Linked DNA regions of Homo sapiens: all the other regions are linked to region 1. Evidence: fine-mapped expression QTL. A gene starts in region 1. Each other region holds a variant in brackets. All regions are shown on one strand. Distances are between the middles of the regions.

What was found.
Region 2: its variant is fine-mapped to the expression of ZNF460-AS1 in whole blood (TOPMed, PIP above 0.99).
Region 3: its variant is fine-mapped to the expression of ZNF460-AS1 in whole blood (INTERVAL, PIP 0.92).

The regions. Positions count from the first base shown.
Region 1 is chr19:57,278,772-57,281,530 of GRCh38, forward strand. ZNF460-AS1 (ZNF460 antisense RNA 1) reads right to left here and starts at 1,563. Exons shown (of 3, transcript NR_136529.1): 1 at 1,508-1,563. It overlaps ZNF460 (zinc finger protein 460), which reads left to right and starts at 1,714. Exons shown (of 3, transcript NM_006635.4): 1 at 1,714-2,065. The coding sequence starts at 2,036. RefSeq lists enhancers at 910-1,849, 964-1,555, 973-2,172, 1,556-2,147 and a silencer at 2,570-2,619.
Region 2 is chr19:57,232,175-57,234,933 of GRCh38, forward strand. It overlaps AURKC (aurora kinase C), which reads left to right. Exons shown (of 7, transcript NM_001015878.2): 3 at 1-50; 4 at 368-506; 5 at 1,286-1,434; 6 at 2,710-2,759. Among named protein-coding and RNA genes, the nearest start is that of AURKC, 2.5 kb to the left of the region's middle. The variant C/T (reference allele first, on the strand shown) is at 1,580.
Region 3 is chr19:57,244,708-57,247,466 of GRCh38, forward strand. The region is part of intron 2 of ZNF805 (zinc finger protein 805); the gene reads left to right. Among named protein-coding and RNA genes, the nearest start is that of ZNF805, 5.5 kb to the left of the region's middle. RefSeq lists an enhancer at 1,334-1,628. The variant T/C (reference allele first, on the strand shown) is at 1,291.

The sequences.
Region 1 (2,759 bases):
GTAGGTTTTAGCTTCATTTTACCCAGCTCCTATTTAAGATAGAGTTGCTCTGGTTCATATGCCTCTGAAAAAACCATTTAAATTTAATTATAAGAGTCTGGCCAGAGGGGGTGGCTCACGTCTGTAATCCTAGCACTTTGGGAGGCCGAGGTGGGTGGATCACCTGAGGTCGGGAGTTTGAGACCAGCCTGAACAACATGGAAGAACCCTGTCTCTACTAAAAATATAAAATTAGCCAGGCGTGGTGGCGCACACCTGTAATCCCAGCTACTCAGGAGGCTGAGGCAGGAGAATCGCTTGAACCCGGGAGGCGGAGGTTGCAGTGAGTGGAGACTGTGCCACTGCTCTCCAGCCTGGGCAACAAGAGTGAAACTCCATCTCAAAAAAAAAAAAAAAAAAAAAAAATTTAAGAGTCACAAATATGTGAAAAAGAGAATGATGTCTTTATCAATTTTCAAAAATTACTATTGCCAGTGATGAATAACAGTGTTCCTTGCACACTAATTTAGCCAAAAATATTTCTCCAAAAGTACCGCATCGTGTAGGAAATTGACTCCATCTCCATTCCTTGACTATTTTCAATCTCAAAATTAAATCTCTTGGAGAGTACTTTCTGCACACCTTTCTATTTCCTTAACCATATATATCGTCAAACCATTGAAAGCTGGACTTTATTCTCTCACTTTCATAGTCATGAAAAGAAAAAAAAAAAGTTACTGATGGGGACTCCTAAGACTTCGCATAATATAATCTTTGCATAGTCTAGGATTGTTAAAATTCCTAACAAGACTTTATAAACTCTCCTGTCTGCAACCAGTTAATGCTGGGTTGGGCCAGGGTTCCCCTCTTTCCCGTCACTTATCCATCTACGCTCATTCTTTTCATAGCCTCACCCAATATCATGACTTGAAGTAACAGTTTACAGTAATAACTCCCAAATTTATATATCCACGCTCGAACCCTCTGCCAATGTTGAATCATAGGTTGAGTATATGGCACTACGCTTTGTGGTCTTACTGACGTTTCAAACTGATCATGCTTGAAATGGGAGTACTGGGCTTCCCGGCAAGCCTGCTCCACTAGCAGCCTCCCCACCTCAGGGTACGGGAAGTCCACACGTGGCGAACGCGAAGCCTATTACATCACCCGGAAGTCCCTGCATCCTACGAAGGCTGGGCCCGGCCAAAGGAGGCCCAATAGAGGGCGGTCTGTCCTTTCCCAGCAGGCTGGGCACACTGTCAGGCGTCCTCCTTTGGGTGGCTATTTTAACTGCTCATTTATCCTTTTCTTCTATGAAAAGATCCAGAAAAGAGGCAAAGCAAGCGAGAAGTCGCGGGCCCAGCCCACAGCAGGGTAAGCACCTTTGTTCGGGGTCTGAATCGGGGCGAATATCCCCGCCTCCTGACCTCGATTTTCCTGAGCTAGAAGGGACCTTTCGACCCTCCGACTTGTGCCTATACTAAGGCGGTGGCCCTAAGACGACGCGGGGGTTCTGGTGCGCACTTACGTGCAGTCGGATGCGCTGGGTGAGTTCCCACACCCGGTAGATGTAAGGGAAAAACTGCATTACCCAGAAGGCACTGCCCCTTGCGTCGGCCGCGGACTCTGGGCCATTGACGACCCAGGACAGGAGAGTTTTCTGCGGGCCAGGGCGGCGGAGGCGGGACTTCCGCTTCTTCGTGTGACGTCATCTCCGTGGGCCGGTTTGGCCCTGAAACAGTGTGGGGCCTAGAGCGCTGGGTGGGCGCGTTCTGCGGCCTGAGCAGGGACGGGTAGTGAAGCGGTTACGCCCCTTCTTCGCGTCTTGGCGGGAGCCTGACGCCCCGCTTCTCCCCTAACGAGGTGTCCCACCGGCGCCCGCCGAGGCCTAGGCCTCCGCAGCCGCCCTCCGTCTCCTCAGCCCCGACGCTGCGCCTTGGGCCTTGTGCGCATTTTTTTCGGGGGAAAACTGAGGCTCGGAGTGCGAAAGTCAGCCGAGGTCGCCCCGCCCAGGACAGAGAAGGGCTGTGGTCGGCTGATCCGCGGCATTCCCGGGATGGCGGCGGCGTGGATGGCTCCGGCGCAGGTGAGTGGACGAGGTTTCGGCCTTGCTGCTGCTGTGCTATTTCTAGAGGCCTCGTGGGCAGGCTGGAAGCCAAGACAGCCACAGGATTTTTCTTTGTCGCCATCGTTTATTTAAGAGAAATGGCCGTGGCTTGTCATTTCCTTTATCCGCAGTCCTGCAACAGTGTTGGCCTCTGATAGGTGTTCAGTCCGTGGTTGAAGGAGTGATGCTTCCTTCTAGGGATCTCATCACACTTCCCCTAAATCCAACCTTCTCTGTTGCCTGCCAGCCCGTACCCCATCCACCTGGCCAACCACCCCTGACCTTGTCTGTTTGCATTTTTCCCTGGTCCTTTGCTCTTCAGAGCCACCAACCTGACCGTGCAGTCCTCTTCCATTTTCCAGGCTTTCTCCTTGCACTTCCTTTTACTTCGAACACTGCCCCTGTAACTTTGCAGGGCCTCCCTTTCACATCCTTTTGGCATCTGTCCAGGTGTCACCTATTTGGAGGTGCCTTTTTTGGCAATTCCGGCTAAAGTGGCACCTTACACCCTTGCCCAGAGTCTGGTATTTTTGTGTAGATAATCTGATGGTATTAAAGAAGCTTGTGGATTTGAGTTTGTCAAGGATGTAATGGGAACAAAGAAAAATAATTGCAAAGAATGATATTAACTGTCATTGAGTCCTTGCTGTGGGCTGATCGGTGAGTATTATTT
Region 2 (2,759 bases), 47 kb before region 1:
GGACTGGAGCACCAGCTGCGCCGGGAAATTGAGATCCAGGCTCATCTACAGTAAGGACAGTCTCTGCTTCCTCTTTCATCTTTGACGTCTGAGCCCAGCATTTTCCCCAAATACTAACCCCAAGTAAACCCTGCACTTGTACCTTGAAGACTTCTCTGCAGTTCATTCCATTTACACTACCTCCTACCCTGGGTCAGACACTCGAATCCTGGTTCCTGTTCTCCGTTCTCCCCTCACTTGCTCCCAGATAGGGCTGTTGTTATTCTGGTCCCAGCATAATTTGCCACTTGTGTGACCAGGCAGTGACGGTGGCATCATATGATAGGCCTCAGGGAGAAATCTGACTCTTCCAACATTAATCCTTCAGACACCCCAATATCCTGCGCCTGTATAACTATTTCCATGATGCACGCCGGGTGTACCTGATTCTGGAATATGCTCCAAGGGGTGAGCTCTACAAGGAGCTGCAGAAAAGCGAGAAATTAGATGAACAGCGCACAGCCACGGTGAGGTGCGGGTCTGGAGGCTCTGGGGTCTCTGAGTTTACTGTGGGCTGGTGGGAGCTCTGTTTGTGGCTGTCAGGAGGGTCCGCATTGCCTTCTGAGAAGTTTACTTCTGAATGTTATTGTGTAAATTTAATATAATGGCACGTATGTTCTACAGCTTTATCCTTGGATACCCTAATTAACCTCATTGTATCTCCAGAATATTAATAAGTACTGCGTATAGGTTTGGATTCTTTGGTTATAAGCAACAGAATCTAACTCCACTGCCTTATGTAAAGAAACATATTGAAAGGCTCTGAAGGAGTTCACTGAATAAATAGCTAGAACTGGCTTAGAGATAGGTACAAAGAGATTTCTAGAGGGTTCCGGAAAGGGAACCATGGCAATGATTTTCCCAGGAGCAATGGTCCAATCAGCTTGCTGTGTCAGGATGAGTGGTCTTCCATCTTTCCTCCTGTTTCTGTTTCACTTCCTCGGGCCTCAAGTCCTGTGAGAGATCATCTGAGTGGCTCAATGTAGGTTCTATGTCTGGCTACTTGCTGTGCTAGGACAACAGGGAGGATCTGTGTCCATGTTACCATCCATCCTATAAGACCACATAAAAAGGAGAGGAAAACCACACCCCACACACCAGTAACTGGTGCAATTTAAAAGGAGGAAATGGAGTTACTGGACCAAAAAGATTCCACTGTAATCATACAATTCATGGTAAGTGTTCCACCTCAGACGGAAATTGTGGCAGGCTTCACTTCCAGGGTGACTTTTCTTTGCACCCACAGATAATAGAGGAGTTGGCAGATGCCCTGACCTACTGCCATGACAAGAAAGTGATTCACAGAGATATTAAGCCAGAGAACCTGCTGCTGGGGTTCAGGGGTGAGGTGAAGATTGCAGATTTTGGCTGGTCTGTGCACACCCCCTCCCTGAGGTAGGTCAGGTGGTGGTGGTAGGGTGAGTTCTGAGTACCAGTTAGGAATGACCCAGTTTAATGTATTTCATGTGTCCATGTGTAAAACCTAGATACGAACTTGGGGTTTCTATTGGAATACTGCCTTTTTCTTTTCTTTTCTTTT[C/T]TTTTTTTTTTTGAGACAGAGTCTAACTCTTTCACCCAGGCTGGAGTGCAGGGGCACAATCTCGGCCTCCCAGGTTAAAGCGGTTCTACTGCCTCAGTCTCCCAAGTAGCTGGGATAACAGGCATGTGCCACCACACTCGGCTAATTTTTGTATTTTTAGTAGAGACAGGGTTTTGCTATGTTGGCCAGGCTAGTCTCGAACTCCTGACCTCAGGTGATCCGCCCACCTTGGCTTCCCAAAGTGCTGGGATTACAGGCGTCAGCCACCATGCCTGGCTGAACTACTGCCTTTTTCTTTTCTTTTTTTTTTTTTTTTTTTTTGAGACAGAGTTTTGCTCTTGTTGCCCAGGCTAGATTGCAATAGTGTGATCTCGGCTCACTGCAACCTCCCCCTCCCAGGTTCAAGCGATTCTCCTGCCTCAGCCTCCCAAGTAGCTGGGATTACAGGCATGGGCCATCACACCCGGCTGATTTTGTATTTTTAGTAAAGACGGGTTTCACCATGTTGGTCAGGCTGGTCTCCAACTCCTGACCTCAGGTAATCTGCCTGCCTCGGCCTCCCAAAGTGCTGGGATCATAGGCATGAGCCACGATGCCTGGCCAATGCTGCCATTTTCAAACACCTATACTTGATATGTATTCGTAGATTTAAATAATGTGGTCCAATCAAACCTTTTATTTTCTGATCTTTGTTAATATATAACTATACCAGTAAGTTTGCATGTAAATAAAGTCATTGCTCCACAATTCCAAAGGAGTGCATTTTTCTGTATGAATGATTTTCATACAGAAATTTTCTTACCATAATTTATTTACTTGGCTCTCATTGATACACCATCAGTTTGTTCTAGATCTTTCTTAATGCTGAGAATATTCTTGTGAAAACATTCTGGAGCATGAGCTAAATCACTGTGTGAATAATTCCAAAATATGGATTTATTAATAGTAGGCCCCAGTACTTTTCTGAACCTTGATCCATATTAAAAATTTGTCTCTCCAAACTCCTGTGCTTGGGAGGGACTTTCCAGGGTGTCCTAGGGTCTCCACATCTCAATGAAAGCTGGGGAAGGAGAATTTCCCTCATCCTGGGCCTCTGCTTAGTACTTATTCCCTTTTCTGCCTTCCTCTAGGAGGAAGACAATGTGTGGGACACTGGACTACTTGCCGCCAGAAATGATTG
Region 3 (2,759 bases), 34 kb before region 1:
CTCTGTCTGGGTCTGCTCATGTCACTGTCTACTCTGTATGGTTTTTTCTGCCTCAGCGAGTTCAGGGGAAGAGTAACCACCCCAGGTTTTACTGTTTGTGACCCCTCCTTCCCCTCCAGATTTCTTGTCTGTTTCTCTGGCCTCTGTGGGGCGTGTTTGAGGCAGCAAATGCTGCTCCACCTCCAGCTCATACTTGCCTCCATCTCTCACCCACTGCCCAGCATAGACTGGCCTCTGTCTGCAGTTTTTTTTTTGAGTTCCAGAGCGGGATCTGCCTGGGTGGGCCTGGTTGCTCATGTATCTGCTCCACAGCCCAGTCTGTGGTGTAAGGGTTGGTGGGATGTTCACTAAGAAGGGTTGAGTCAGGCAGGCCCCAAGGAGACATTGACCTTCCGTCCCACCAGGTGTTATTCTAAACAACCTTCACGTCCTTCAATCACCTTCACATCCTCTGATTCTAAAGTCACTCTGCTGCAGCCTTGCTGGGCTTCTTGCTATTTCCCCAAGTGCCCACCCACCTCAGGCCATTGCATTTGCTGTTCTCTTTGATGAGTGTTCTCAGGGTAATTCAGCATTTCACATGGCCGCCCCTTCTCAGCACCACTTGCCTCCTCACCCAGCCCTTCCCTGACCACCGAATCTTGGGGAGGCCCCTTTCTCACCATAGCCTCCTCCCTTTACCTTTTTAATGTCTTTCTAAGCTAGTGTTTCTCAAACAGGGACGATGTTGAGCTTCAGTGGACACTGGGCAATGTGTGGAGACATTTTGGTTGTTAAAACTAAGATGATGGGCCAGGTGCGATAGCTCATGCCTGTAATCCCAGCACTTTGGGAGGCCGAGATGGGCGGATCACAAGGTCAGGAGATAGAGACCATCCTGGCTAACACGGTGCAACCCTGTCTCTACTAAAAATACAAAAAATTAGCCGGGCGTGGTGGCGGGTGCCTGTAGTCCCAGCTACTCGGGAGGCTGAGGCAGGAGAATGGCGTGAACCCAGGAGGCGGAGCTTGCAGTGAGCTGAGATTGCACCACTGCACTCCAGCCTGGGCGACAGAGCGAGACTCCATCTCAAAAAAAAAAAAAACCTAAGATGATAACATTGACAGCTAGTGGGTGGAGATGCTGCTAAACATCCTTATAATGCACAGGACAGATCCTTTCTCCTCCTCTTCCCCCGATCTCACAAACAAAGAATTACCTGGACCTAAATGTCAATTGTGCTAAGGCGAGAAGCTCTTTTTCAGAGAGTGCTTGGACAGACACTACATCAGCTGGTGCTGAGAGACACT[T/C]GAGGAAGTTGTTCTTTTATTTCTTCTCGTCTTGTCTCCTTAGCATTTGAGGAAAACTCTGGTTTAGTGCTGAGACTTAACGTCCTGCAAACTGTTGGTAATTTCCCCTTTTCTACAGAGGGAGCAGCCTTAGGCTCACAGCCCTGAACAAGCAGCATGAGCTCACAGGGACCAAAGAGCACTGTTTGTTTGTCTTGAGACAGAGTCTCGCTGTTGCCTCGGCTGGAGTGCAGTGGTTTGATCTTGGCTCACTGCAACCTGTGCCTCCTGGATTCAAGCATTTCTCATGCCTCAGCCTCCTGAGTAGCTAGGATTACAGGCAGGTGCCACCACGCCCAGCTAATTTTTGTATACGTTGTTTTGATTTATTGCTACATTTTCATGGTTACCTGCCATCAAGACAAGTGACTCTGGATTTTCCATTTACCAGAGTGATAAGGATTCCATTTTTGAAGAAATCTAAGAAAAATAAAAAGTGGATCACTTTTAAGAAAAGCAGCCCGGGCATGGTGGCTCATGCCTGCAATCTCAGCACTTTGGGAGGGCAAGGCAGGCAGATCACGAGGTCAGTTGATAGCGACCATCCTGGCCAACATGGTGAAACCCCGTCTGTACTAAATATACAAAAATTAGCTGGGTGTGGTAGCGCATGCCTGTAATCCCAGCTACTCAGGAGGTGGAGGCAGGAGAATCACTTGAACCAGGGAGTTGGAGGTTGCAGTGAGCTGAGATCGCGCTACTGCACTCCAGCCTGATGACAGAGCGAGACTTCGTCTCAAAAAAAAAAAAAAAAAAAGAAAAGCAGTTAACAGTCCAGATCCCCAGAGCACTGATTGGGTGTCTCAGGCCTGTTCCAGGCAGTGTTCATGCTCCATTTATTCTCACAGGATCCCTGTCCTCAGCAAAGTAAGGAAAATTTAGCCACTCCTGTGAGTCCCTCATCCAGTTTAACTTACTCAGCACAGATGAAACACCTTCATTTTATGAAGCTATCACTGAATGTTTTTGTGTAGAAAAAATTCTTCTCTTGTGAACTTTTTTTTTTTTTTTTGAGATGGAGTTTCACTCTTGTCTCCCAGACTGGAGTGCAGTGGTGCAAGATCATAGCTCACTGCGATCCTCACACCTTACCGTCTCCAGTAGCTGGGACTACAGATGCGAGCCACTGCGCTGCTATATGAAGTTTCTGTAAATATCCTTATGTCACCATATCACAGTAGGATGTTCAGTCTTTAAATATTTTAATGGTTCGTGAAATGCTGGGGTCTGGAGTCACTGACCTGCCCCTCATCCTGGCCGCTGGTCCCTGAGGATGAATCCTCCAGCTCACATCTCTGCCTCGTCACCACCCTCTGCCACCCACTCTGGTGCTCGTGGTTTCCTCCTTACTGTATTTCTTGGGAGAGTAGGGTTTGAAGCCAGAACGCTGGTGTCCAGCCCCAGCTCTGCTCTTTAAAAACTCCATGGCC